7 linked regions of the Homo sapiens genome follow. The protein of the gene in region 3 purifies or fractionates together with the protein of the main gene of each other region. This does not show direct contact. Each region holds a gene or a part of one and is shown on either strand. Other genes may lie near its edges.

What was found.
Region 1: the proteins of SOX5 (region 3) and CPVL purify together in Homo sapiens (affinity purification with mass spectrometry; one large-scale study listed by BioGRID and IntAct). This does not show direct contact.
Region 2: the proteins of SOX5 (region 3) and SEC13 purify together in Homo sapiens (affinity purification with mass spectrometry; one large-scale study listed by BioGRID and IntAct). This does not show direct contact.
Region 4: the proteins of SOX5 (region 3) and POLDIP3 purify together in Homo sapiens (affinity purification with mass spectrometry; one large-scale study listed by BioGRID and IntAct). This does not show direct contact.
Region 5: the proteins of SOX5 (region 3) and RGPD8 purify together in Homo sapiens (affinity purification with mass spectrometry; one large-scale study listed by BioGRID and IntAct). This does not show direct contact.
Region 6: the proteins of SOX5 (region 3) and SOX1 purify together in Homo sapiens (affinity purification with mass spectrometry; 2 studies listed by BioGRID and IntAct, with this or other methods). This does not show direct contact.
Region 7: the proteins of SOX5 (region 3) and RBM33 purify together in Homo sapiens (affinity purification with mass spectrometry; one large-scale study listed by BioGRID and IntAct). This does not show direct contact.

Annotation. Positions count from the first base shown.
Region 1 is NC_000007.14:29,069,905-29,074,072, reverse strand, and holds part of CPVL (probable serine carboxypeptidase CPVL isoform b precursor), read left to right. Parts: intron 1-1,607; coding exon of another isoform or gene 1,608-1,649; coding exon 1,650-1,772; intron 1,773-2,168; coding exon 2,169-2,300; intron 2,301-4,168. UniProt on the Homo sapiens protein: May be involved in the digestion of phagocytosed particles in the lysosome, participation in an inflammatory protease cascade, and trimming of peptides for antigen presentation.
Region 2 is NC_000003.12:10,299,763-10,304,112, forward strand, and holds the end of SEC13 (protein SEC13 homolog), read right to left. Parts: coding exon 4,264-4,350; intron 1,613-4,263; coding exon 1,499-1,612; 3' UTR 1,386-1,498; coding exon of another isoform or gene 1,344-1,385; 3' UTR 1,169-1,343; downstream 1-1,168. UniProt on the Homo sapiens protein: Functions as a component of the nuclear pore complex (NPC) and the COPII coat. At the endoplasmic reticulum, SEC13 is involved in the biogenesis of COPII-coated vesicles.
Region 3 is NC_000012.12:23,528,541-23,531,542, reverse strand, and holds the end of SOX5 (transcription factor SOX-5), read left to right. Parts: 3' UTR 1-2,039; downstream 2,040-3,002.
Region 4 is NC_000022.11:42,604,430-42,608,597, forward strand, and holds part of POLDIP3 (polymerase delta-interacting protein 3), read right to left. Parts: intron 1-4,168. UniProt on the Homo sapiens protein: Is involved in regulation of translation. Is preferentially associated with CBC-bound spliced mRNA-protein complexes during the pioneer round of mRNA translation. Contributes to enhanced translational efficiency of spliced over nonspliced mRNAs.
Region 5 is NC_000002.12:112,426,871-112,431,038, reverse strand, and holds part of RGPD8 (RANBP2-like and GRIP domain-containing protein 8), read left to right. Parts: intron 1-4,168.
Region 6 is NC_000013.11:112,065,060-112,069,948, forward strand, and holds the start of SOX1 (transcription factor SOX-1), read left to right. Parts: upstream 1-2,089; 5' UTR 2,090-2,599; coding exon 2,600-3,775; 3' UTR 3,776-4,889. UniProt on the Homo sapiens protein: Transcriptional activator. May function as a switch in neuronal development. Keeps neural cells undifferentiated by counteracting the activity of proneural proteins and suppresses neuronal differentiation.
Region 7 is NC_000007.14:155,731,261-155,735,428, forward strand, and holds part of RBM33 (RNA-binding protein 33), read left to right. Parts: intron 1-4,168. UniProt on the Homo sapiens protein: RNA reader protein, which recognizes and binds specific RNAs, thereby regulating RNA metabolic processes, such as mRNA export, mRNA stability and/or translation.

The sequences.
Region 1 (4,168 bases), on a different chromosome or scaffold from region 3:
TAATGATTATCTTCAGCATATGATTATGGTGTGGATAAAATAAGAGCTTTCAGGGGTTCCCAGCCTTTGAACTACAGACCCCTGGAGGGCCTTGGAGATGCTGTGAAGGGTCTGTGAACTCACAGGTATCCACATAATGTCTCTAGTCTGTTTTGAACATAGATGCATTGCTCTTTTTCAGATGTCTGTAGATTCATTTTAAGATTCATTCATTCAACAACTATTTATTGAGCACTAACAAATATACGCATCAGTCATAGTGGACTCAAGTAAACAAAACAGACAAATGTCCCTGTATTCACGGATCTTATATTCTAGTATGGGTAGGAGAATAACAGTATATAAGATAAGTAAGTAAAAGTTTGTTGGAGAATGATAAGTATTAAGGAAATACTTAGGAAAGAAAAAATATAGGACATTGAGGGAATTTGCCATATGGGGGCCTGTGAGAAGAGCATTCCAGGTGGAGGGAATGGCTGGTCCAAAGGCCTGGCAGACATGTGCCTGGTATGTGCAAGGAATAGCATGGAACCCAATGGGCTGGAAAGGAATGAGCGAGAGGGTGGCAGGGGTTGAGGGTAGAGAAGGGAGCAGATCATGTCAGCCCTTATGCCTTTGCTTTTGGGAAGATGGGAAGTCATTAAAGGATAAGGGCAAAAGAAGGAGGCCAATGAGGAGTCTACTGCAGTCATCCAGGCCAGAGATGATGTGATGGAGAAGGGGTTGTGAGAAGACATTGGACTCTGGACAGATTTTGTTAGAATAGGTAGAGCTGACAAGCTTGGCTGATTGACTTCTGTGGAATACGAGACAAAGAGAGATATAACGAATGGCACCAAGATTGTTGGCCTGAGCAGGGGAGAAACAGAATTAACATGAGATGAAAGGGAGGCTGCCTCAGGGTTGGGGATTGGGAGCTTTATTTTGAACATGTGCAGTTTAATATTAGACATACAAGTGGAGATATCAAGAAGGCAACTTTTGATGGAAAGAATGCAAAATGCAAAATTATTTGAAAAATACTGCTGAGTCAATAGTAGCTCTTCCAGCACAGTCTTAAAGTAGAACCGTTACCATGTTTGTTAGGGGAAATATATCTACAAAATATTCTGACCTTGAAAAAGGACCTTGTGCTGGAAAAGTTTGGAAATAGAGATGAGTTCAAGTGAAAATTTTAGTGGCCAATAAATATTATTTTCCTTTTCTGCTTCTCCTATTCCTTTAGTACATGTTGATTTCAAAATTTGCAGCATTATCAGATTTTGAAATCTTAATTTTAAACTTGAGATTTTTTTCCCTCTAATCTTTGAATAGAGCTTTCTGGTAAGAGATGCCTAACACATGGCAGAATTGTGTTCTCCCAAGTTATTTTATTTTGGAAGGAAATTAGAATGTTCACTTATTACATGTTCACTTGTGATTTTTTGTGCATCGAACCTGTTCATGTCATGTGGTGCTATTTGAGACGACAAAAGAATTGGAAGACAGAGGTTTTTGCTATTATGGAATCTATAATGTGGGGTTAAGAAACAGATGGTATACCTCATGTGGAAAGATTGCTCCTTCATTGTTATTTTAATTAGCTTAAGTACATTTAATTTTACTAGCATCCATTTGTGATTGGCCATTTCAACATCTGTCCTTCTCAGTCTTATGCAGGGAAATATGTGCCAGCCATTGCACACCTCATCCATTCCCTCAACCCTGTGAGAGAGGTGAAGATCAACCTGAACGGAATTGCTATTGGAGATGGATATTCTGATCCCGAATCAGTAGGTTTCTCCTTCTGACTTTCTATTTTGTCTCTTAGGGGGATTAAATGCCTTTTTATCAGATGGAAGGCTCCTCTTAGAGGTCTAACTTTTGATAAGGGAAACACCAGTTGACTTTATGACTTAAATCTCCTAATTTTTACCAAATGTTTCAACGTATCAATTTACTGTGTCAGCTTACATTGGCTGTCAGTGCAAATGTGTGTGTGTTTGTATTGTGTTGTGTTCTGTTGTGTGTGTTGTGGGGTGTATATGTGTGTGTGCATGTAATTATCCTACTTGGCTAACCAGCACAATATTAACAATTACAAAGGATTATTTCACCAAGCAAATGGGCTTCCTTAAGGTCTCTTTCTCTCCCTTTGTCACATTGATGTGTGTCTTTTTTGTCCTCAGATTATAGGGGGCTATGCAGAATTCCTGTACCAAATTGGCTTGTTGGATGAGAAGCAAAAAAAGTACTTCCAGAAGCAGTGCCATGAATGCATAGAACACATCAGGAAGCAGAACTGGTTTGAGGCCTTTGAAGTGAGTTCTGGGGGCCCTGTGCTGCCCTTGAGCAATTAAAACCATCTGGGGAGGGAGGGCGGGTGAGCAGGAACACCTTGGTGCTCAGGCATTTTTTTGTTAAGAAGGTATATCTGTTATTCCATTGGAGATCGGGAGGCGAGTTGAGTGGCCTCATAATGAAGAAAAGGACTGTCTGTGTTCCTTTGAATTTACTTTGGCTATATTTTAAGCCTGAGATCATCTTGGAGTGTTTATCTAACTGTGTCTTTCATTAACCGTTTTGATTTCTTTAAATGCTGTGGAGGCCCTCAAGGCAGACTCTATCATATGGAAATCAGAAGAAAGGCAACCCAGGAAGTAGAGGCATATGCTTCACCATCTGCTCTAAACCATGTAGAAGAGTTTTATATCCACAAACAGGGTTTCAGCTGGGAGAAATGACCACAGTGTGTAACAGATGACATGTGACACACGTGTCAGGAACAAAGATTATAAAGTGTAGTAATTTGAAACTCTTACAAAGGGCCATTGGTATTTGTGCATATCCTTTCATTGCTCCCCTAAAATTAAACTTGAGAATCAATAATTACGTTCTTCACTCTTTTCTTTCTCAGTTATTTAAAATGTAAGAATATACTAAATATTAGGATACAGGAAGTTGGGTTTTTTTTGTTTTTTTTTGCTTTTTTTGCCAATGCAGACAGAGCCATGTGTAAACAATCTCCCTGAGGGGCTTTTTGCCGTATTTACTATACAGCCATCATGTTTGACATGGTAGTAAATGAGGCAAGGTCTGAATTTCGAGGGCTTTAATTTGTTTGTTATTAGACACATATTCTGTAACAGTATATCTAATGTCGTTATTGTTATTAAAGCAGAAATCTGATATTAAGTCTTAAGGGCATTGCAGATCAGCCAGTTCAGATCAAAATAGGAGACATGCAACCTTGGAGAAAAGGGTAGAGGATAATACAAAGTTATTTTTCATTTTACAAGTAGGGTGTTGGGACACTATCAGAAATCCCCCAAGGCAGTGACCGCCCTTGCCGTGAATTCTGATAGCAGCTAGCTGTGCAAATGGATGGAGCAAAGGGAGTCCTGAGCCATCCTACAGAGCTCCACCAGGCTCTCCTTTCTCTGTGTCAGGACACTAAATGTGGCTGCAAAGTGTGGATTCAGAATTTCTTATGCAATTGTAAACACAAAGGAAGAGGGGTCTCCTGGGGCACATGTAGGATCATGCTTCCACTTGCAATGACAGTATTTTCAAGGCTTTCTGCTGTGGTAGTCACAGAGGGGACGAAGGAGTGAAACTTCAGTATTTAGAATTAATACCAAATTTTATGTGGCATGAGACCAATTTGCAATTGAAACATTTGATATGTTTTTAAAGAAGCACACAGGATAAAGCAATTGTCAAGAGCAAGAGCATTTGAGAGGCCCATATTTAGAAAAAAAGCAGAAAGATGACTGGTACATAATGCAGCAGGCTAAACACCTACAGGATTAGTGAAGCTGTAGAAAAGTTCAGGTGTGTTGTGTATTCAGAGATAATGAGAACATGACCCACGAGGTGAGAATCTCTCCCAAACCGGATACGTCAGAAACCGGAACCCCAAGCAGGTAAAACGTTTGAAGGCTTGGAATGTCTTTTTGACCATTGGTCCCGTATCTTGAGTGATGAATTAAAACAAGACCTTTGCTTTTTCAAGGAAAATAGATAAAATGATACTTAGGACAGTAAACAACTTGTGGTTGAAATGTGTTTCAGTGACTGCAAAGGAAGACTCCAACAAATCCTGAAACCCAGGGGAATATAAATGTCAGAATCTCAAGCCTAAAATGATAAAGCCTGTTTGACGCTCTGATCCTTTAAAATGATTTAA
Region 2 (4,350 bases), on a different chromosome or scaffold from region 3:
GGAGGCAGACGTGGATATGGTTCAAGGATTCACTGTAGAACTCGACACTCAGTAGTGCACGTGAAGGTGCCTTCCTGGGCTTTGCTTTTCTGAGTAAGGGAAGGAAGGAAGCAGCTGTTTTCATGTTGGTCTCAGAAGGCTTGGGCTTTGTGGACTGACTGGAGGCTGACTGGGCCAGGCCATGGCCTCTCTGTCCTCACCTTTAACCAAAGCAGTTTCACTTTCTTCTATGTTACATAGTATGATCAAAGATTTTTTTTTTTTTTTAAAGGGGATTTTGCTGCTGAAAAAGGAGGGAAGGACAAGAAGTAGGCAGACTAGGGGGCCTGAGGCAAGTGGGCTGACCTTTTATCTGAATCTATTCATACAAAGGTTTGGTGTGAGAAACATCCTTGTATTACAGCTGAGGAGAGCCCCCCAGCTCCCACCCTGATTCTACAGTGGGGAGTAACTGTTGAGATGGGCCAGGCCCTGACGCTGGCTTTACGTTTGCACAGTCCTGGGCAGGGCTTCTACCTTCTGAGCGCTTCCTCATCAGTGAACTGGGTACACCCACACGGGGTTCTCGTGTTGCTTAAATTAGCGAATGTGTGAAAGATCCAGTGTAGGGTCTGGCTCACCGCAGGCTCACTGATGGCTATGGCGATTGTCAGGGTCACAGGGCCTCCGCTGAAAGGTGATACCTGGTTCAGGGTCAGTTAGGTCTCCCATCATGGGGCCCTCCTTTTCCTGACAGGGTCAATAAACTAAATGAATCGTGCCCACTTTCTGGGCCAGCATCTTAACTATTGGTGTTTGGTTAATACCACGTTGCACCTGCGTGGCATTTTGTAGGTCACCAGATGCACTAGCGTGTTTGAATCTTGCAGCCATCCTGTAGGGCAGACTGTATTAGTCCCATTCTGCAGAACAGGATGTGTACCGAGAGGGTAAGTAGCAGACCCAGGGCTACAGTCCTTGTCACCAAAGGCTGAGTCCAGTGCTCTGTATGGTGCTTTCAGTATAAACTGAATCAGAGATGCTCATGCAGTGACAAGCCACCTTTGTGCGTGGGGTTAAGCCAGGCCATCACAGCCGTGGCCTTTGTGAATAGTTTGTTCTAGTGCGTGGACCGACAAGAGTCAAACTGAGCTGGTGGGGTGGGGTGGTTAGGATAACGCAGCAGGAATTATAAGCAATATGACTTTATTTAGTTCCTTTGGAAACAAAACCCCCCAAATAATGCCTGAACCCAAAGGTACATAAAAATGACCCAAAATAGATTTGAACATCACTTGTAGTTTCTTCCTCGTAACATGAGTGCTTTCAGCTGGACAGTAGATTACAAAGCATCTCCGATCACGTTAAGGCAGATGATCAATCTGTGGCTGCATCTGTAACTCCTCCTGGGAAAATAATCCTGTTGGAGTTGGGGGCTCTTCCCAGTTGTCTGGTTAGTTGGCCCAGGAAGGGGCAGTCCTGGAGCTGGCGGGTGGGGAGCCAGGCCCCACCTGTCTTGTCACTGCTCGTTCTGCTGGCCCTCTGTCACTGATGCTGATACGGAGCCCTGGCCCTTGTTGACATCACTGATGCACACCCACTGCCCATCAACTGACTCCTTCCACAGGGTCACCTGCGAGTCAGTGCACAAGCAGATTATCACGGGTCTGTGCCCTTCCCTCTGCTGTCCCCTAAATATGAGCCTCATCCTCATCAAGAACCACTGCCCAGAGGCTTGTGGGTGAACAGAGCATGTCCCTCCTCCACTGAAATCTCACCAAAATGAGAGTCCAGGAATAAAAACTCACAGAAAAAAAGGAGTAACAATAACAGCAGCTGTGGATGATGATGTCAACACAGGATACTGTTTTCAGCAAACTGTGACAGAGCTACAGCGAGAGGATATGGGGTGGCGGGGAGCAGGGTTCGCAAAGTGTGGTCCCCAGACCAGAGCAGAGCATCGGTCACCTGGGAGCTTGCTACAACTGCAGATTCTTGGGGCCTGGAACAACTGATTAGGAAGCTCTGGGGGTGGGGCTGGCAATCTGTTTTAACAGGTTTAACAACACTGCAGTTTGAAAACTACTGTGGTAGAGGAAGGTAACAGTTCAATATGTTGTTTCTACACTGAAGTAAACTGTATAAGAAATAGCTAAGAGCTGAAAAGGTTTGCCCCTGGAGAGAAAATTAGGAGGCTGCATTAAAAAAAATCAGTCTAGGTCGGGCATGGTGGCTCACGCCTGTAATCTCAGCACTTTGGGAGGCTGAGATGGGTGGATCACCTGAGGCCAGGAGTTCGCGACCAGCCTGAACTGGTGAAACCCCATCTCATCTCTACTAAAAATACACACAAAAAAACTAGCAGCCACCTGTAATCTCCCAGCTACTGGGGAGGCTGAGGCAGGAGAATCGCTTGAACCCAGGAGGCGGAGGTTGCAGTGAGCCGAGACTGCGCCACTGCACTCCAGCCTGGACGACAGAGCGAGACTCGATCTCAAAAAACAAAACAAAAAACAAAAACAATCTAAACCTATGTACATATATTAGTTTGATTAAAAATGAAAATAACGATTTTGATTTTAAGAACTCTTGCTTTAGGGACAAACTATTCACTCAACACACTGCAGAATGCTCTGGGATTGAAAACATACTAAGTCCTTTAGGTAAGGGTGCTATGGAGACAGCGAAAGGAAACAGGCTTGTAAAGAAGAGCAAGAAGCCTAAATGCACAGTGACGGGCCCCACAACACTGCGTGCACAGCCAGGCACTTGCTTACAGCCTTGTAAAAAAGTCACTGGGGGCCTGCTTGAGGCAATCTGGGTCCCTTGGTCTGCCCTGAGTGCCATCAACCTGGGTTCTGGTCCTGACTCTGGCACTCACTAGAAATATGGCTTTGAGAGGGGGCCTGCTAGATCTTTCTGGGACCACTGTAGATGAAAGGGACCCTCGGCCAGAAAAGCCGCCTGCAGAGGCTCTCAAGATCTGCACACCCATGTTCACAGCCACACTATTCGCAATAGCTAAGAGGTGGCAGCAGCCCAGGTGCCCTTTGGTGGAGGAATAAGTGTAGAAACAGGGTGTGGGCTGTCTATACAATGCAACACTACTTAGCTTTACAAAGGAAGGAATTCTGACACATGCTACGTACAGCATGGAGGAACCTTAAGGGCATACTGCTAGTGACATAGTCGCAAAAGGACAAATACTGTATGATTCCACTTAGATAGGTCGCTAGAGCAGTCACATTCACATAGACAGAAAGGAGAAGGGTGGCTGCCAGGGCTGGGGAGGGGCAATGGGGAAGGGAGTTATTTAATGGGTACAGAGTTTCAATTTTGCAGCTGAAAAGAGTTCTGGAGACCAGCTGCTTCTCTGCCTTGCCTGTGTTGGTTGTGCCGTGAGCCACACAAATGAAAGGTAAGACATGGAGCCAAAGTGGCCACTGGGAAACAGTAAAAGACCAACATAGGCAAGGGAGAGAAGCAGCAAGGGCTGGCAGGATCCAGACCAACTCGCACTTCAGGCGCAGAGCAGATGTGCCTGAAAACGCAGCACAGCCACTCCACGTGGAACTGACCCTGCGGCGTTAGAGATCCTCTGTCTTATAGGGGAATTCAGCTGGGCAGATGGCTATGGCTTGTTACTGCTTCCTTTCTGCGGGTAGCTTTTTTCCTTCTAATTGTAAAATACACGTCACATAAAATGACCTTGGCCACTTTTAACTGCACAGTCCAGTTGTGTGAAGTACATTTGGGTCCCTGAGCAGCTGGTCTCCAGAACTCTTTCAGCTGCAAAATGCAAACTCTTCCAGTGCACCCACTGTGTACCTGCCTCTTACCAGCATAACAAGTATTCATAAACTCTAAAGGTTTTTAAAAAGCCTTTTCAGTGTTATGGACAAAAAATATCCCCAATCTTCTTCTGTTTATGGGTTCTTATACACTTGCCTTTTTGGCACAGCTAACTGAACATCACCATGAGGTGACCAAATGCTTAGTAGGGTGATGGGCCTGACTGGCTCTGCCACCTCATAGTTTTGGGACCCCCATGCAAGTCAAATCGCCTCTGTCAGCTTCTTTCCTCATCTGTGAAAGGGGGACGTGTTAATACTACCTCAGGGGCTGTGACATTAATGATGTAACTAAGAGGCACACTCAAAACGCAGTCCTGGCTAAGGCTCCTGCCCAGCCTGCAGTCAGATGGGAATGTCAAGTGCCCTCTCTAGTGGGCGGGGTGAAGACCAACAGGCTGTGTCCACCATGCCACGGGGAATGGGTATGTACCTTATTGTCTCCACCAGAGACAGCCAGGATGTTGGCTGTGATGGACCAGCTCACATGCCACACCACATCGTTGAACTTGTGCAACAA
Region 3 (3,002 bases):
GTTTGCTGGATACTTACTTTACACCATGTTATGAAAGATGCTTTGTTTTCATTTCATGAGTTTGGGCTACAAGAATACTTTGTTTTAGCTCCAGGTAGATGCCATTGAAGGCATTCATGGCTGAAATCAATTCTAACACACTTACCGATGAATTGACAACACTTTGGTGTTTGGTCTTTTTTTTGTTATATTTTGTTTTATTTGAAGGGGAAAACAAAATTGTTAATGGTGACTTTTAACTGCTGAAATTCAAAATTTGATTTTAGTTAGGTTTATGTCCGAGACTAAACTGTGCATGAACCGAAACAAAAAGCAAGTTCATACCGCTGCATTCTGTTCTCTTGTTCTGACGGTTAATTCACTGGACATCAAATTTTCTTTGCCCTAGTTTTCCCCAAAAGAAAACAAAAGCAAAAATAGTTATATTAATGTTGAAAGTGCTTTGAAGTCACTTGATAAAAGGTGCTATGAATAGCAACTTACTGTGTTACTACATTGCCTTTTTGGCATTGGTTGATTTATAATTTTGGTAAAGGATCCTAAAACCCTGTATTCTTTTTCTGTGCCCCATAATGACCAAAAAAGATAAAGAAAATGAGAGTAAGATCAAAAGATCAAACTAAAACATAAACAGTCTCCTTCCTGTCTGCTTTCTTACCTATCTGTTCACACTTTATCTCTTTCCCTTTCTCTCTCTCTCTCACATGCGCGCGCGCGCGCGCGCACACACACACACACACACACTTGCCCCAACACTGAGAAATAATCTTGCCAGAATTCTGGTTTTTATAGTTGTTGTAGTCCGTTTCTCTAAAAATAGTCCTGTTTTCATATGAATCTAAGAGAACATTACCGGAGAAAATAAAGTTACTCATTTATAGTTACTAATAATAAGTTAGTGATTAACTTACCACAATTGGATAAAATATAAAACTATTCTTCAGCACATTTATACCTAAATTAGTGAAGTCCATTTGTGAAGTTCATTTGGCATCTGCAGTTAAGAGTTAACCATGTATAAAATCCCTCCCAAAGAACATAATCATCGTTAGAACCAAATCCTCTTATAAAGAACAAATATAAAAAAGTTTTCTGTGGTGAAGCTATTTTATAGATTTGATTTCCGGAGTAGAATTTTACCTTAATTCACTTAAAGAAAATTAACCATTTTTTGGTCCAACTTCAGATATTTTCTTAATCCAGAAGCTGTGACTGTTCCCAGAAGAAACCTCTTATATCACATTTAAAACATAAAAAATAATTACACTTTCACTCATTCTAATGGGTAAATTGTTGAATTGTAATAAACAACTGTATATTTACAAACAGGTTTATAAGGTATTTGTCTATCAAATTAATAATAAAATAAAACTTACGGGGTCTGCAAGGAAAACTATGAAGGCCACTTAAAGTGGTTCAGGTATCCCTTTGTCTTGTAGGGCATAGCTGTTGGTTTAGCCAGGCTTTTACAGTATTTAATTTTAAAGTATCCTATAACTATCAACTTCCCAGGTTGAAGACGATGTGTTGAGTTTCCTACTGATTGATTGATTCCTGTCCTCCCCAGTGTTTCCGTCACTGGTTCACTAAAACAGTATTTATATAGCTCCACTGGCTCTAAAGCTCTTAGTCCTTCTAATATTTTGGATTTTACAAGTAAAAATGGAAAAAAAATAGAAAAGAGACAATCAAATGCCTGGAGCTTAAAACAAAGTATGTGCAACCTACCATCTCACTTGAAATTTAATAAAATAATAAGTAATTATGTAAATATAACATAGAGTTATAGATTTATATTTTGTTCATAACACATAGTGTAATATAAGTTGTATATTTTCATGTTTTTGGTTTTATGTTATCATTCATGCCACAATAAAAATAAAACAGGAGTTTATGTGCTCTTAAAAAAAAGATGTGGGTTGCCACCAACCTGTTTTTCGTTTTTGTTTTTTGTTTATTTTATTTTATTTTTTTGCATTCTCCTTTTTCAGTATTACTGCCATGCAAGGCACCAATAAAAACAGCAAATGTGTTCTTTACTTATTATACTGTGTTTCTTTTCACAATTATTGTTATGAGGGTGTAATTAGTTTTATTATGAAAAGAACAAAAGTATGGAAATTTAATTTTGTTTTTAATATAAATAATCCCTCTTATTGAAGTTGACTTTAAGAACTAAAGGTTTAATTTTTAGCTGTGGACATTCCCAGAAAGACAGTCAGGACTTGATATAATGCATTTCACTCAGACAGATCTAGCTTCACCATACTGTCAAAAGATACTGTTCTTATATGTAATTGATTCAACACAATTGAAAACCCAACAGTCTAAAGCACCTTTAATATTGTTGTTTTCCCTGGCTGGACACTATCCTTGGGTGGGGGATGGGGGGTTTCTATGCTTTAGAATTGTGCTTTATCCTTTCGTTTGTATAGAAGATTTATAAATTTCAGATCATGAAATTACTAAGAACTATGAATAATTTTCACCTCGCTGGTATCTCATTTTGAATAATGGATATTTCTGAATTGTTTAACATTAGCCTCTCAGTTCTACCTTAAACTTTTTTAGTGAATGTTAAAAACAAGAAGTCTCCTTTCCTTTCAATGGCCATTTTTGCTTGTCTCTTCCACCATAATATGTTTTTCTACCTTGATAGTTCTATATGTAATAGTTTCATTTAAGGGTGTTTGCTGGTTGGTTGGTTGGTTGGTTGGTTGGTTGGGTGGGTGGGTTTTCTAAATAGGTATCAAGACAATGGGTCAGGTAACATTTGGTTCAAATGAATACAAGTATATAAAAGGGTTTATTCTGGAAACACTGCCCACTGTATCCCTTAACAGAAGTATTTTACAAAATCTGGTCCACGGACCACCTACTTCAGAATCAGCAGTGAAAAATGTAGATTCCTGGGCCCAACCCCAGGTGTAGTGAATCAGAATCTCTGGGGATAGAACAAAGCTTTTGCTATTTAACAACTCTAAATAATTCTGCATACTCTG
Region 4 (4,168 bases), on a different chromosome or scaffold from region 3:
AAATCTGGGGCGAGGCCTGGCCATCTGCATTTTTAACTCCATGGGTGATTCTGGAGAAGAGCCATGTTGAGGATCTCTGACCTGCTGTTAGAGGGTAAACTCTGCTGCATAAACGAGTTCCTGTATTGCCTCCCACTTCACTGCCTGGACCTCCCAGGAGGCATCTCTCATACTGGGTCAGTCACTGGCACTCTCCCACTGCTGCATTCCAGTGGCTGGAGTGAGATTGGCTGTCAGTTCCTCTGCTAATGAATACCAGAAGTGCAGCCAAAGGTGAGTCTACCTGGTACCAATAAAAGCAAACGTGGACCTTCATCTTGTTATCCCTCAAATAATGGAAAAACACCTGCTGCCTCCAATATGCCAGTACCAAACCTAAGGCGGTAATACAGACTGAACATCTGTGTCCCCCCAAAATTCCTCTGTTGAAGCCTAATCTGCAATGTGATGGTGGTAGAAGGTGGTGGCCTTTGGGAAGTGATTAAGTCATGAGGACAGAGACTTCACAAATGGGATTAGTGCCCTTTATAAGGAAGAAGCCCCAGAAAGCTCCTTGGCCCCTTCCACCATGTCAGGACTCAGCAAAAAGACCATCTACAACCAGGAAGCAGGCAGGCCCTCATCAGACATGGAATCTGCCAGCATCCTGATCCTGGACTTCCCAGACTCTCTGTGACAAGGAAGTTTCTTTTCTTCAGTTTTGTTTTGTTTTGTTTGAGATGGAGTCTTGCTCTGTCATCCAGGCTGGAGTGCAGTGGCGCAATCTTGGCTCACCGCAAGCTCCGCCTCCCGGGTTCATGCCATTCTCCTGCGCCAGCCTCCCAAGTAGCTGGGACTACAGGCGCCCGCCACCACGGCCGGCTAATTTTTTGCATTTTTAGTAAAGATGGGGTTTCACCGTGTTAGCCAGGATGCTGTCGATCTCCTGACCTCGTGATCCGCCTGCCTTGGCCTCCAAAGCGTTACGATTACAGGCGTGAGCCACTGCGCCCGGCAGTTTCTGTTTTTTATAAGTTACCCAGCTTAGGGTATTTTCTTATAGTAGCCTAAACGGACTAAAACAGGCAGTGATGCATGCTATCATTTTTCTCTTTGGAGTGGCAAATTCAGATTTAAAGATTTTCCAGTGGGTTCTGGGTAGAAGGGTCATTTATACAATTAATCAGATAAGGCTTAAGGTTTACTTGGCCATTCCTGTCCTATTTTTTTAATGTGAGGACTCTGGGAGATGGAGGCACTAGAGAAAGCAGGGCCAAAGGAAGGGAGTGTTCAGGGGGTCGGCATGCACGATTAGAAAGAAATGGTTGTATGTGGTAGATGGCATCCACCCTCCCTAGGACTGGGCTACCCTAGGCTTCGTGTTCCATGGCCTACAAAGCCATAGACAAACTGGGACTATGCTTTGGGGTGACCTCAGAAACTTGCAGCTAGGCCAGGCACAGTGACTCACACCTGTAATCCCAGCACTTTGGGAGGCCGAGGCTGATGGATTACTTGAGGTGAGGTGTTCAAGACCTGCCTGGCCAACATGGTGAAACCCCGTCCCTACTAAAAATACAAAAATTAGCCAGACGTGGTGGCACGCGCCTATAATCCTAGCTACTCGGAAGGCTGAGGCAGGAGAATCAGTTGAACCCAGGAGATGGAGGTTACAGCAAGCCAAGATCACACCACTGCACTCCAGCCTGGGCGACAGAGCAAGACTCTGTTTCAAAAAAAATAAAGGACATGATCAATGAAAACTTCTGAGTATTACTCACTACAGGTTGACAATTTTTCACACAGACTTTTTTTTTTTTTTAAGAAACAAGGCTGGGCACAGTGGCTCATGCCTGTAATCTCAGCACTTTGGGAGGCCAAATGGCAGGATGGCTTGAGCCCAGGAGATCGAGAACAGCACGGGCAACATAGCGAGACTCCCTGGGCATGGTGGCTCACACCATGTAATCTCAGCACTTTGGAAAGCTGAGGCAGGAGGATGGCTTGAGCCCAGGAGTTCAGGACCAGCCTGGGCAATATAGTGAGACTCCATCTCTATAAAAATGAAAGCAGAAAATTATCTGGGCATGGCAGCATGAGTCTACTCCACAGGCTGAAGCAGGAAGACCACCTGAGCCCCAGACTGCAATGTTGCCGTGAGCCAGGATCGAGATACTGTCCTCCAGGCTGGACAACAGAGCAAGACCCTGTCTCAAAAACATATTTTAAAAAATTTAAAAGGACAGAATCTCATTCTGCTGCTCAGGATGGAGTGCAGTGATCATAGCTCACTACAGCCTTGACCTCCTGCCTCAGCCTTCTAAGTATGGAGCCACCATGCCCAGCTTTAGACGTCCTTTAAATGTTACAACCCCGTGAATCAGGTTATTGTTCACATCTTATAAATGAGGAAACTCAGAACCAAGGAGATTAACTATCCCAAGAGCTACTAAGGGGTGAGGAATGGACTTGAACTTCACTGTACCTGGTTCAAGCATCAATTAAATAAGCATGGGTCAAGAGTAAACAGCAGAGCTGGAAGAGTTAAGAAAAAAACTTCTAAAAAATAAAAAACACCAGGAGCAGTAGCTCATGCCTGTAATCCCAACACTTTGGGAGGCCAAGGCGGGCAGATCGCTTGAGCCCAGGTGTTCGAAACCAGCCTGGGCAACATGGCAAAACCCTGTCTCTACAAAAGATACAAAAAAAATTCCCTCCCCCTCCCCCTCTCCCCAGTTTCCCTCTGATGCCGAGCCGAGGCTGGACTGTACTGCCGCCATCTCGGCTCACTGCAGCCTCCCTGCCTGATTCTCCTGCCTCAGCCTGCCGAGTGCCTGGGATTGCAGGCGCGCACCGCCATGCCTGACTGGTTTTTGTATTTTTTGGTGGAGACGGGGTTTCGCTGTGTTGGCCGGGCTGGTCTCCAGCTCCCGACCGCAAGTGATCTGCCTGCCTCGGCCTCCCGAGGTGCCGGGATTGCAGACGGAGTCTCGCTCAATCAGTGCTCGTTGCCCAGGCTGGAATGCAGTGGAGTGATCTCGGCTCGCTACAACCTCCACCTCCCAGCCGCCTGCCTTGGCCTCCCAAAGTGCCGAGATTGCAGCCTCTGCCCGGCTGCCACCCCGTCTGGGAAGTGAGGAGCGTCTCTGCCTGGCCGCCCATCGTCTGGGATGTGAGGAGCCCCTCTGCCCGGCCGTCCAGTCTGGGAAGTGAGGAGCGCCTCTTCCCGGCCGCCATCCCATCTAGGAAGTGAGGAGCGTCTCGGCCCGGCCGTCCATCGTCTGAGATGTGGGGAGAGCCTCTGCCCCGCTGCCCCGTCTGGGATGTGAGGAGCGCCTCTGCCCGGCCGCGACCCCATCTGGGAACTGAGGAGTGTCTCTGCCCGACCGCCACCCCGTCTGGGAGGTGAGGAGCTTCTCTGCCCGGCCACCCCGTCTGGGAAGTGAGGAGCCCCTCCGCCCAGCAGCCGCCCCGTCTGGGAAGTGAGGAGCGTCTCCGCCCGGCAGCCGCCCCGTCTGGGAGGGAGGTGGGGGGCAGCCCCCGCACAGCCAGCCGCCCTGTTCGGGAGGTGGGGGGCGCCTCCACCCAGCCACCACCCCGTCTGGGAAGTGAGGAGCCCCTCTGCCCGGCCGCCACCCCGTCTGGGAGGTGTACCCAACAGCTCATTGAGAACGGGCCATGAAGACGATGGCGGTTTTGTCGAATAGAAAAGGGGGAAATGTGGGGAAAAGAGAGATCAGATTGTTACTGTGTCTGTGTAGAAAGAAGTAGACGTGGGAGACTTCATTTTGTTCTGTACTAAGAAAAATTCTTCTGCCTTGGGATGCTGTTAATCTATAACCTTACCCCCCCCCCCAAAAAAAAATTAGCTGCAAGTGATGATGCACATCTGTAGTCCCAGCTACTCAGAAGGCCAAGGCAGGAGGATCAACTAAGCCCAGGAGGTCCAGGCTGCAGTGAGCCAAGATCACACCACTGGACTCCAGCCTGGGAGACAGAACAAGACCCTGTCTCAAAAATCAAAACAAAACAAAACAAAAAAAAACCACCACCACCAAAACAAAAAGAAACAATCTTCCTTATCATTATTGTCTGGTATTTCAGTTTCAATATGTTGTTAAACCCTTAAAAATTTATACATATATATAAAGGAAGGATAAACAGTCCGCAGGCTGAAGAAATCTTAGGA
Region 5 (4,168 bases), on a different chromosome or scaffold from region 3:
CTCAAGTGATTTCCCCGCCTCCACTTCCCAAAGTGTTGGGATTATAGGCGTGAGCCACTGCACCGGCCATTATTTTGTTTTTGAGACAAGGTCTCTTTCTGTCTCCCAGGCTGGAGTGCTGTGGCGGGATCGTGGCTCACTGCAGCGTTGACGTCCTGGGCTCAATCCGTCCTCCCACCTTAGCCTCCTGGGTAGCTGAGACTACAGGCATGCGCCACCATGCCCGGCTTTTTTCTTTAATGTAGAGACGGGGTCTTACCATGTTACCCAGGCTGGTCTCCAACTCCTGGGCTCAAGTGATCCTCCCGCCTTGGCCCCAAGTGCTGAGATTACAGGTGTGAGCCACTCTGCTCAGCCTGATTTTTTTTTTAAACAAGCTTAAAAAAAAAAAAAAGCAACCTTAGAGCCTTTCTGAGATTCTTAGTGGGGACCTTGGCTTCCAAAAGATTAAAAACCACTGGTCTAGACAGAAGTCAGAATGTTCTTTCAACTACATAACTTCTCCATTAAATAAAGTGGAGTGGTAGCAACATTTTGACGATTGGTTATTATGACCACCTCTCTTACACTTAGAGTCTTTTTTTCCCCCCCAAATTTAAAGTCATTTACATTAGAACCTGGGGATTTCAGCGGAATATGGATTAACTAGTGAGTAACTGGAACATGTGAAGCTATTCTGTAAAGTTAGGTTTGAGTGAAATGACAAAACAGGGTGCTTTGGATAGAAGGTAAAGAATGGAGGGAGAAGAGGCAGTGGCTGTGAAGAATATGAAGAGGTTAGTATTCTCCCCCAGTTTGGCAGAGGCTGGCCATCTGTGAACTGCCCATGCCTTCTAGAATGTCGGAGTTTTGGTGTGTGATGATGCGTCTGTATATCATATCTTTCTAGTCTTCCATTGTGCTTTCATTTGTTAGTCTTCTCTTGTTTTGCCATTTTTCTACTCCCTCACATGTGCTTTTGCCCTTCTTAAAAATATTCTTCGTCTGTAATCCGAGCACTTTGGGAGGCCGAGAGACCAGCCTGACCAATATGGTGAAAATCTGTCTCTATTAAAAATACAAAAATGAGCCGGGCGTGGTGGCAGCGCCTGTAGTCCCACCTACTCGGTAGGCTGAGACAGGAGAATTGCTTGAACCCTGGAGGCAGAGGTTGTGGTGAGCAGAGATTGCGCCACTGCACTCCAGCCTGTGTGACAGAGCGAGACTCTGTCTCCAAAAAAGAAAAAAGGAAAAAAATATAATTCTTTCTCTAGTTTTTCTTTTTCCCGATGGCTTCTGTTTAGTTTTTCTATGTTCTGTCAAGTCGATTTCTTATTCTGCAGCTGATTCCTACTTCTCAAAGTCTACTTGACAGCTCTTATTTTTATTTATTTGTTTTTTAGAATAGGGTCTTGCTGTGTTGCTCATCAAATTTTTGGGCGTAAATGATCCTCCTACCTCTGTTTCCTGAGTACTTAGGACTACAGGCAGGCACCTTTGACAGCTGTTAGTTGTTTTTTCTGCCCTTTACATCTATACTTCATACTTCTGAGTAACACACATATATACTTTTGTTATTTTTAATTCCCTTTCTCCCATTTTAGACATTTTCTTTTCTTTTCTTTTTTTTTTTTTTTTTTTTTTGAGACGGAGTCTGGCTCTATCGTCCAGGCTGGAGTGCAGTGTCGCGATCTCGGCTCACTGCAAACTCTGCCTCCGGGGTTCACGCCATTCTCCTGCCCCAGCCTGTAGCTGGGACTACAGGCACCCGCCACAACACTCGGCTAATTTTTTAGCATTTTTAGTAGAGACGGAGTTTCACCGTGTTAGCCAGGATAGTCTCAATCTCCTGACCTCATGATCCGCCCGCCTCAGCCTCCCAAAGTGCTGGGATTACAGGCGTGAGCCACCGCGCCCGGCCCCATTTTAGACATTCTGTACTGGCTATTATGCTCCTCCAAAACTGTCCTCAGACACTTTGGTTTGCCCCTCATTCTTTCAGTACTGTTACTGCAGTTTTTGTTTAAATGAATAGTTAACATTTATATAAATAGAAGGTAAATATTTTTGCATTTGAATTGCCCTTGTTGTGCAGTTTTTTGTTGTTTTTTTTATTATACTTTAAGTTTTAGGGTACATGTGCACATTGTGCAGGTTAGTTACATATGTATACATGTGCCATGCTGGTGTGCTGCACCCACGTTTTCCTGGACTGAATAATTGCTTTATTTTTTGGTTTGCTTGTATGTTGTGTTACTACTTGCTTACTTAAACTCAGCAATTTAAACCCTCAAATGTGGTCAAACTGGTCACATAATCCCATCAATTTCAGCTTAAAACATTGATTGATTGATTGATTGTCTGTCTACCTGGAATACCCTTACTAACCAACTTCTCCAACCCGGATTGGTTTTTCTTCCTCTTTGCTACACAGCTGTGCTCTTGGGACTTCCCTTTATCACCAGTTTGAGAATTCCCTTCATCTTTTTTCTGAGTTAGACCCTTTGTTTCTTGTATCTCATGTCCTCTTCATTTACTTTCTTTGTTTTGGTGTAGCATAGTCTCACTTGCTTTGAGGAAAAGTGGATGAGAGGTTTTTTTGTTTGTTTTTGTTATGGGACAGAGTCTTGCTCTGTTGCCCAGGCTGGAGTGCAGTGGCATGGTCTCAGCTCACCGCAACCTCCGCCTCCCAGGTTCAAGTGATTCTCCTGCCTCAGCCTCCCGAGTAGCGGGATTACAGGTGTGCGCCACCATGCCCGGCTAATTTTTTCTATTTTTAGTAGAGATGGGATTTCACCATACTGGTCAGGCTGGTCTAGAAACTAATGGTATGTCTTTAAAACATCTTTACTTAATTTAGTTGATCATTTGGTTATCGAATTCTGAGTTTCAAATAATTTTTTTTGCAATTTTGAAAGCATTGCTCCATTTTCTAGAAGTTCTGTTGTTAGGAGTCCCATGAGATTCTTGTTCTTGGTAACTTAAAGGTTTTCTGGAAGTGTCCTTTCAATTGGGAAACTCATTTCTTTCAGTTCTGTAGCATTTCTTGTATTATTTCTTTGACCATTTCTTACCCTTTTTTTTAATGATGTTTACCTGAAAGCTGGAGTTTCTCTAATTTTTCTCTTATTCTCCTCTTTTGTTTGTTCTGCCTTTTGAGAGATTTCCTTACCCTTATGTTCCAGGGGAAGAAGATTGGGGAACTCATGGTTCAGTATCTAGACTTTTCCTCATTGTCCTGTATAATCACGGCCTTCACCCTTGTTGGGACTCCACAGATTTGGAGCTGATCAGATGGGTTTGTTGAGAACAGCAGCTTTTTTGGAGGATTTTAGGGGGAGGGAGATTCATTTGACTGTGCAAGATGGGCGACAGGGTGAGACTCCGTTTGAATTAAAAAAAAAAGAGAGAAATTTAGAACTGCATAATGAAAAAGTAGGCCACAAATATTAAGTTTTGGACAATTACAATTACATCTCTATCTTACTGTGCAAGATAGCGATGATGTGGCATCTCTTAGGGTCTTACTGTTCCTGTTTTCAGCCCTGCATCAGTTCTTGATATTTGGCAGCTTAAGTGAATTCAGGTATTTGCTTATAGTGACATCTGCTGTCATGTAAAGAAGTACTGCTTGCATCAGATATTGTCCTGTTTACATAACATGGGCTGTGCTCCTTTCTAGCTGTATATCTTTAAACAAGGCATTTGTCTGCTTGAGCTTCAGTTCCCTTGTAAAGTGAGCAGGTTAGAGGCAAAAGATCATATAGAAGAATAATTTGTAAAGTTGTTTAATTATCTTAAGATTGTCTACTTTAATAACATAGTTGGAAGCAAAGAAGGTAATGGAATTATTTTTCTATTATGTTTTAACATAGTTGGAAGCAAAGAAGGTAATGGAATTATTTTTCTATTATGTTTTGGCATTGTACCTTGAATCTATTTCTTCATTTTGAAAAGGGGGAACTGGCCGGGCTCGGTGGCTGATGCCTGTAATCCCAGCACTTTGGGAGGCGGAAGAAGTCAGATCACAAGGTCGAGAGATCGACACCATCTTGGCCAACATGGTGAAACCCCATCTCTACTGAAAATACAAAAATTAGCTGGGCATGGTGGCGTGCGCCTGTAGTCCCAGCTTGTACCCGGGACGCAGAGGTTGCAGTGAGCTGAGATCGAGCCACCGCACTCCAGC
Region 6 (4,889 bases), on a different chromosome or scaffold from region 3:
TTCACAATGTAACTGATATTTGTAGGTAGTGCATGTAACAAATCAAAAGATTTAACAAACTCGACTGGTGAAATAAGAAGGTAGTTGGAAGCCCAGTTTATAACCTAGATATTTAGTGAAAAAATAAATATAAAATGATGTTCCCTTTCTAATATAATTATATATTACTTGATGGATTTACTAGTAAATGCTGAATGGCCTGGAATGAAAGCAGTTTAATCTGCAGAGAGATCAATTTGCTGTTGCACTTCACACTGTAGCAACCCTGCAATAATAAAACAAACCCTACAGTAATAATCATAGCAATTGAGAGGAAATAAAGCATTATTCTTTTACCTTGGACAAGCAACAGGGTCAAGAAATTCACAACCTCAGAAGTTTTTTTAAGAGGAAAAAAAAGGTGTCACGTGTTCGCTGCCCAACAGACTCAAACATCCTATTACTCCTATTACCGTTATCATCATCTTTACTGAATATTCCTACTACAAGACAGGCAGACATGTGACATGCGGTGAAGGTTCTACTTTACCCACCACCAATCTCCACAAGCACTCTCATCTCAGGGTGCCTCGGGGAGGGCAGAGGAGGAATACTTGGGCTCAAAAGTCGTCTTTGGACCACTTTCAGATCAGTCTGGTGGAAACGGTAGTGTGAGCGCTATGCTACTTGAGACTGCGTTTGAAAATCTCTTTCACGTTCCCAAATCAAAGCCACTTTGAGGTTTAAGAATGATAACCACAGGTGAATGCCTTACTCTTTCCACGAGCCAGGCCTTTCCTTTGCATGACGCAGACCGGCGGCTGAGACCCGTCCTGAGGCCCCGCCTTTCATTCGGTTTATGTGGCCCCGCGCAGTTCACGCAGTTTTCTCCGTTCTTAGGCAACCAGCTCGTGGGAAATTCACTCCAGAAAAGCGTGCGCCATATCATTATTTTGCGATTCAACAAACTTTTTCAACTGTTGTTCAGGAACTAGATTCCAGATAGATCTTGTTGTGTTCGGCCTTCCTAGAAATTCCTTTTCCAGAGGAAGAAGATCCGGGTTGGGAAGAGTGCGTGACTATGGCCCCGGGCTCATTGAAAGACTCCTCCCCACAAAAGTTTAGGGCTGATACTAAACGAAGCTATGGAGCCATGCCCACACAAATACTCCCCCTTTACCCGAATTGTGGGGCCTGGACTGTGAAGGCCTTCGCTGCAAGAGCGGGCACTGGCGAACTTCAGTGCACGCCGCGGCCGAGAACGGATGCAGGGCGGGGGATGGCTGAGCCGCCTGATCCTTGCAGAGAACCTGCAGGGGCCCTCGGAGGGTATCCCCTGCGTCCAAGGGAGCGCCCCTCCTTTTCAGCACTCGGGGGAACTGAGGGCGACGTGCCAGCCCCGCACTCAACTTTCCCCTTCCCTGCAGGCACAGAGTTGGCCGGCGGGGGCAGAGGAGGAGCTGGGTCTCCACTGCGCCCGTTTAAACCTGGCCAGGGGCTGCGTTTCCTCCCCCCACCCCACGACGATCCTTTCTTAGTCTTCGCTTTTCAACCCAATCGTTAATCATTCGGAACGCGCGGGCGGGGAGCGGCGAGGAGGGCGAGCTCGGGGTTCGCCGCCGCCGCCGCCGCCGCGCGCGCGCGCTCAGGAAGCGGTGTGGCTGTCACCCCCTCCCGGGCCTCCTCCCCCCTCCTTCCTGCTTTGCTCCCCCTCCTTCCTCCCCTCCTCCCCGCTCCGCCGCCCGCGCCCAGTGTATCTACTCCCTCCCCACGTCACTCGCCAGCGCGCCATGCAAATCACCGCCGCCGCCGGCTCCCATTGGCCGCGGCGCGCTCATTTAATGGCAGCCCGGGCCCGGCGTATGGCTGCTGGGCCCCGCGCGCCGCCGGCCCCGCGTGCGCCTCCGCTCCGAGCGCACGGCCCCGGGCAGGCAGCGGGCAGCCCATCCCGGGCTCGGCGGCCCCGGCTCTCCGGCCCTCTCCGCGAGCCCGCGCTCCTCCCGCTGTCCCCGGGCCCCTCCCTGGCTGCACCGTAATCGCCCCCTGCAGGCCCCCCTGCGCCTCCCCCCCCCCGCCACTGGCGCCTGGCTTCCCCCGGGCACCTGGGACCAGCACATGCCCAGCGCACGCGGCGCGCCGCCCTGCTAGAAGTTGCAGCCTCCGAGTTGGAGGCCGCTGAGGACCGAGCGCAGGAGGAAGGAGACAGCGCGCAGCGGCGGCCGGCGAGGAGACAGCACACCCCGGGCCGGGCCCAGCGCACCGCTCCCGGCCCCAAAAGCGGAGCTGCAACTTGGCCACGACTGCACCTGTTTGCACCGCTCCGCCGAGGGCGCCTGGGCTGCGGTGGCGGCGAAGACGGCGACCCCGACCGTCGGCCTCTTTGGCAAGTGGTTTGTGCATCAGGAGAAACTTTCCACCTGCGAGCCGAACCGGCGCCGAGTGCGTGTGTTTCTGCCTTTTTTTGTTGTCGTTGCCTCCACCCCTCCCCATTCTTCTCTCCGCTAGGACCCCCCCGCCCCCGTCTCACTCCGTCTGAATTCCTCTCCGTCTCCCTCCCACCCCGGCCGTCTATGCTCCAGGCCCTCTCCTCGCGGTGCCGGTGAACCCGCCAGCCGCCCCGATGTACAGCATGATGATGGAGACCGACCTGCACTCGCCCGGCGGCGCCCAGGCCCCCACGAACCTCTCGGGCCCCGCCGGGGCGGGCGGCGGCGGGGGCGGAGGCGGGGGCGGCGGCGGCGGCGGGGGCGCCAAGGCCAACCAGGACCGGGTCAAACGGCCCATGAACGCCTTCATGGTGTGGTCCCGCGGGCAGCGGCGCAAGATGGCCCAGGAGAACCCCAAGATGCACAACTCGGAGATCAGCAAGCGCCTGGGGGCCGAGTGGAAGGTCATGTCCGAGGCCGAGAAGCGGCCGTTCATCGACGAGGCCAAGCGGCTGCGCGCGCTGCACATGAAGGAGCACCCGGATTACAAGTACCGGCCGCGCCGCAAGACCAAGACGCTGCTCAAGAAGGACAAGTACTCGCTGGCCGGCGGGCTCCTGGCGGCCGGCGCGGGTGGCGGCGGCGCGGCTGTGGCCATGGGCGTGGGCGTGGGCGTGGGCGCGGCGGCCGTGGGCCAGCGCCTGGAGAGCCCAGGCGGCGCGGCGGGCGGCGGCTACGCGCACGTCAACGGCTGGGCCAACGGCGCCTACCCCGGCTCGGTGGCGGCGGCGGCGGCGGCCGCGGCCATGATGCAGGAGGCGCAGCTGGCCTACGGGCAGCACCCGGGCGCGGGCGGCGCGCACCCGCACGCGCACCCCGCGCACCCGCACCCGCACCACCCGCACGCGCACCCGCACAACCCGCAGCCCATGCACCGCTACGACATGGGCGCGCTGCAGTACAGCCCCATCTCCAACTCGCAGGGCTACATGAGCGCGTCGCCCTCGGGCTACGGCGGCCTCCCCTACGGCGCCGCGGCCGCCGCCGCCGCCGCTGCGGGCGGCGCGCACCAGAACTCGGCCGTGGCGGCGGCGGCGGCGGCGGCGGCCGCGTCGTCGGGCGCCCTGGGCGCGCTGGGCTCTCTGGTGAAGTCGGAGCCCAGCGGCAGCCCGCCCGCCCCAGCGCACTCGCGGGCGCCGTGCCCCGGGGACCTGCGCGAGATGATCAGCATGTACTTGCCCGCCGGCGAGGGGGGCGACCCGGCGGCGGCAGCAGCGGCCGCGGCGCAGAGCCGGCTGCACTCGCTGCCGCAGCACTACCAGGGCGCGGGCGCGGGCGTGAACGGCACGGTGCCCCTGACGCACATCTAGCGCCTTCGGGACGCCGGGGACTCTGCGGCGGCGACCCACGAGCTCGCGGCCCGCGCCCGGCTCCCGCCCCGCCCCGGCGCGGCGTGGCTTTTGTACAGACGTTCCCACATTCTTGTCAAAAGGAAAATACTGGAGACGAACGCCGGGTGACGCGTGTCCCCCACTCACCTTCCCCGGAGACCCTGGCGACCGCCGGGCGCTGACACCAGACTTGGGTTTTAGACTGAACTTCGGTGTTTTCTTGAGACTTTTTGTACAGTATTTATCACCTACGGAGGAAGCGGAAAGCGTTTTCTTTGCTCGAGGGGACAAAAAAGTCAAAACGAGGCGAGAGGCGAAGCCCACTTTTGTATACCGGCCGGCGCGCTCACTTTCCTCCGCGTTGCTTCCGGACGGCGCCGACCGCCGGAGCCCAAGTGACGCGGAGCTCGTCGCATTTGTTATAAATGTAGTAAGGCAGGTCCAAGCACTTACAAGTTTTTTGTAGTTGTTACCGCTCTTTTGGGTTGGTTTGTTAATTTATACAAAGAGATTACCACCACCACCCCCTCCTTCAGACGGCGGAGTTATATTCTGGGTTTTGTAAAACTTTATGTATCTGAGCATTTCCATTTTTTTTTTTGGGTTTTGTATTATTTCTTGTAAATGCATTGTGAAAAATTTTATTTTCGGCGTTGCAATGCGGGGAGGAGAAGTCAGATTATGTACATAGTTTTCTAAAAAGCCTTTCTTCTAAAAACGAAAAAAGACCCCCCACCCAAAATGTTTCGAGTCAACAAATTTAAGAGACAGAGCCCATTTTCTCCATAAATTTGTAACATGCTATTTTTATGTGCATGTTTTATGAGTTCAAAATGCAATGAGGAAATCTGACAGGGAAATTATCTGTATGAACTAAAAGTAAGGGAACCCCGGGGAATGGGAGGACAGGATTTTTCAAGGAACCTTTTTCAATGAAAGAGAAGGAAGTTAAAACCTATAGGTTATTTTGTAGAGCTGAGTGTTAATACGGGCCGAGAAATAAAAGTATCTTCTGCTCCGGCTGTTTCACTGCGGACGGCTGGGGCTGCTGCGCGTTACCTTGCTGCAAGCGGGGCGCCTTCCACCTGGCTGG
Region 7 (4,168 bases), on a different chromosome or scaffold from region 3:
CAGCCGCATGGCCAGTGCTGTGGTGCCCACCTTATCCGAGGGGCGTGTACTGGAAGACCCCCAGTAGAGACCATGGTTTTTCCTGTACATATATACCTAGGATAAAGTTTAATTTACAAATTAGGCACAATAAGAGATGAACAGCAATAGCTAATCATACAATAAAACAGTTATTACTCTTGCATTTTGGGGCCATTATTAAGTAAAATATGAGTTACTTGAATGCAAGCTCTGCAGTACTGTGACAGTCAATCTAATAACCAAGACGTTGACCAAGTGACTAATGGGCTAGCAGGCAGGGAGTGTCTTCAGCATGGATCCTCTGGACAAAGGTATGATTTCATTCCCCGGGCTGGACGGAGCAGGATGCCAAGAGATTTCATCATGCTACTCAGAAAGGTGTATGGTGTAAAACTTATGAATTGTTTATTTCTGGAATTTTCCATTTAATATTTTCAGATTTCAATTGATGGTGGGTAACTCAACCCCAGAAAGTGAAACTGTGGATAAGTGAGGACCTCTGTACTATTGAGGATGAGATTCATGGCAGTAAGATACAATCATGGAACTTAGAAGAACTACAGAATTTTCTAAGAAATGGAGTTTTTCAGTTCTAAGCCCAGTAAGAAAAGGAGTAATAAATATTAGGGCTTCACCTATTAAATAATGAAGATGGAAAGATCAGGACCTCTTTTAGCTTGTTCTAATTATAGGCAAAATTTAAAGAGAACTGGCACTTCCCTGGCATGAGAACTGAGTGACAAAAGGCCAGCTACAGAAGCAGCCCTTCTTTCTGCACCTGGGGAGGAGCCTGCCTACTGCTGGTTGGTCCTGTGGGAACAGTGTACCCTGCAACTGCACACTTGAAACTGGCACACTGGAAAGGGGTGAAGGGGAAACTGAGCCGGGATAGGAGAGAGTGGCAGTGTGTAATTACCTGTCATTCTGAATAACTGATACATTAAGCTTTGCTTTACTCTTTGTTAAAATTGGCAAAATAATTGTAAATTGATAAAAAAATTTTCACACCCAGTGATGCTGATTTCCGGCTGTTAATACAATAAAAAAGTTTAAGGGTTAAGTGGAAATAGCCTCAGAGGACTCTCCCCCTTTCTCTAAAAGTACATTTTACTCTTCCTTTTCTCTCTGGCACCTCCCAATATCTGCTTTTTTAAGCCAGCTCATTAGCATAGTAGTGACTGATAGAGCTGATGAGTTGCGAGCCCTGAAGTGTGCTGACTATGGTTGGGGCTGACGGCTTGTCAGCCCATCCGTAGCCGACTTTCACCTTCTGTCCTACTTCAGCATACTGTTCCTATATTTAAATGAAAAATCTGACCAAATGTATAATAGTGAGAATTTATATATATTTTTAACAAATAGACTGTTGGTAAAAATTAGCAGCAAGTCCATTACTCGTGGTAGAAAGTGATGTTTAGATGCAGGTGGAAGCAGAGAAGAGGGGGAAGGAAGTGCGGCAAGGATGCCGAGGGCCTTGCAGGCAGAGGGGACAGCTGTGTGGTGGAATCACTAGAAGGTGCTCAGAGGTGTGAAGTTATCCTGGGCAGTGAGAGAAGGAGCTGCCCAGGGACAGGTGAAAAACTGCTGATTGACACTGATGAGCCAGTTAAAATAAAACAAAAGCTTTTAGTGATTCCAGTTCATGGGATTCTTCGTGTTCCAGCCTTCAGGAGCCTGGCCACAGGGGTAGAGGAGTCAGAGGCTTGGGTATGTCTGGGCCCTGTGTCAGGCGTCTCCTGATACAGGGAGGTGGCCAGAGAGTGAAGCAGGGTCAGGAGGAGGTAAAGGTTCTGTACCAAGGGTTACAAGAGAAGCCGTTTTCTGTAGTGATTTTGCATTTTGGCTGAGACAGAAATGTAAGAGTGAAAATTTTTCAAGGAAATACCGGAGATGGAAAGGGAAAGTGTGTATGTAATGTGACAAGTGTCCAGGTTCCACATTCTGACTTGGGGGTACACTACCATTTTTATGTCTAAGTCAGGGAAAAGTTGTAACCCAAATTTAGTAATTTTGATAAGATTTCTTATTATATGGGTTGAAACTCCCCCCACTGCGTTTTTATTATGTCGTGAATAAAATGAACCCTTGCAGAAGCTTTAACTTGGTTTTCTTGAATATTGAAATCCCTGATGTGGTTGAGTGAACTTACAGAAAAATAAAAATACTAAAATAGGGTTGTGACCTTGGACCAGTGATTTAATGTCATAAGTTTTAGCTTCCTCACTGTGTGTTGATGAGTTCATGGGGCCCTGGTATCGACAGTGGTGACAGTGTCATACCCAGGAATTCCTGGACTCTGCCAGTGGACCAGGGGCCTGAGTTCCCTTTGGTCCTCATTTTAAGGTGGCTGCTTAGAAAGCATTGGTTCTTGACTGGCCCTTAAGTTCTGCAAGAATCCCTGCAGTTGTCAGTCACTGTACGGTAGGGAGTGTGAAGGAGCGCTTGCTCAGCTATAAAAGTCTGTGAGTCCTGGCAAGTAGAAAGAATGGCCGTTCACATTGCTAGTACCTTCCTGTTTTGTCACCTAGACCGTGAGCCTTGATTTAGAACCCACTTCCCCAACTCTAACCCATGCTGAGACTTTGTTCTTAAGTCTTCTAATCTGGTTCCCACTAGGCATCAAGACCTACCAGAAAAGTGAGAAAATGAACATTTAATTCTGTCAGTCTCTTTGTGAGCACCTCCCAGGTTCCAGACTTGGCAGACAGGCCCACACCTCATGCCAGCTGTTCCTCGGGGCTCCTTCTCCGTGACCCAGTCCTGCTGTCACCTCACGCCCAGTGCGTGCCTGGCTGCACTAGTGCCAGCCAGATTTACCAGTTTGTCTTTCAACTGGTCTGTAATTTCAAGAACATCGACAGACCCACTCTTTGTGAGTTGGCTTGGACCTTGAGGATGCGCTAGTCCAGTTCACTTTTGAGATCATCCCCGGCAGGCGGTGCTCCTCCTCCTGAGTGCGTGCTTCTGTGGGTTGAGGATGTGTTCATTGCTGGGAGAGTGTTAGAAACCTCCTCCCTCTGTTGAATTGAAATCAGCCCCATCCAAACTCTTACCTAGGTGGTTGGGCAAACCATCATCAAACCTGCTTGTGGTTGATCTTGACTCAGTTACATGAAGAGAGCTATCATAACCACACTTAACGTTGGAAATGGTTTTTCATAGTTTCCAGAGGTGTTATTAATTTTGTATTTGTAAGCTAAAATGTCATACCCATTTTTCATTTGAAGAGTTTGCATTTGAGTGATTTTTACTTTTCACAACTATTATCTTGTTTCAGGCTGTGATATTGTCTCTTTTTGGTGTCTCAGTGACATCATTTTGATCCCTATGTTTTTCATTTCTCAATGCAAATTCTTCTAATGAATCTTACTGGTTCCTTTTGTATGTATCTGTTTGAAACCCCTCCCGTGTGCCTCCTCCCCCGAAATAAGTGTAGTCAAGTGTGCATTGAAACAGCTTAAGGAAACAGGCTGATTAATTGGAAAAGGATTTTTATTCAGAACCACCATTGCCAATTTGCGTGGGTTGGAAACAGTGTGATCAGTCAAACCTCTCTGCAAGCAGAGGCAGGCAGTTGTTTCTTTTATTCCGTGTCATTCTGAGAAGCATCATTTAAACATTTTTTTGAAATAATGCAGAACCTTGATTGCTAATTTATTGTCATTCAGAAAGTTTTGAAGATTATTTTAAAACGTTTTGAAATGCTTGCACAGCTACTCTGCAACTTACGATGGGGTTACATTAGGATGAGGCCGCTGTAAGTTGCAAACATCGTAAGTTGGACCATTGTAAGTCAGGAACTGTCTGTATATGTCAGAATCATATTGATATACAAAACTAAAGATGGAATGCTAATGCTATACTTTATAAATAGAACATTTAAGTTACCTGGAGGAATACAATATTATTTTGGAGGAGATATATTCATGTTCACACCATGTGTTTCATTGACTTCAAACAAGAGATGAAAATATTTTTAAAACAAGAGGAAAAAACTTTGGCAGTGGGAGAAAGCAGGCAAGCTCATTGAAACTCCTCATGCAGATGTAGTAAGTAACAGTATGTAACGGCGTGTGCTATTAGAAGTAATTTTTCTAGCATATTATTAGCAAAGTAAAGATATTAAATATTCAAGAATATTGGCCAG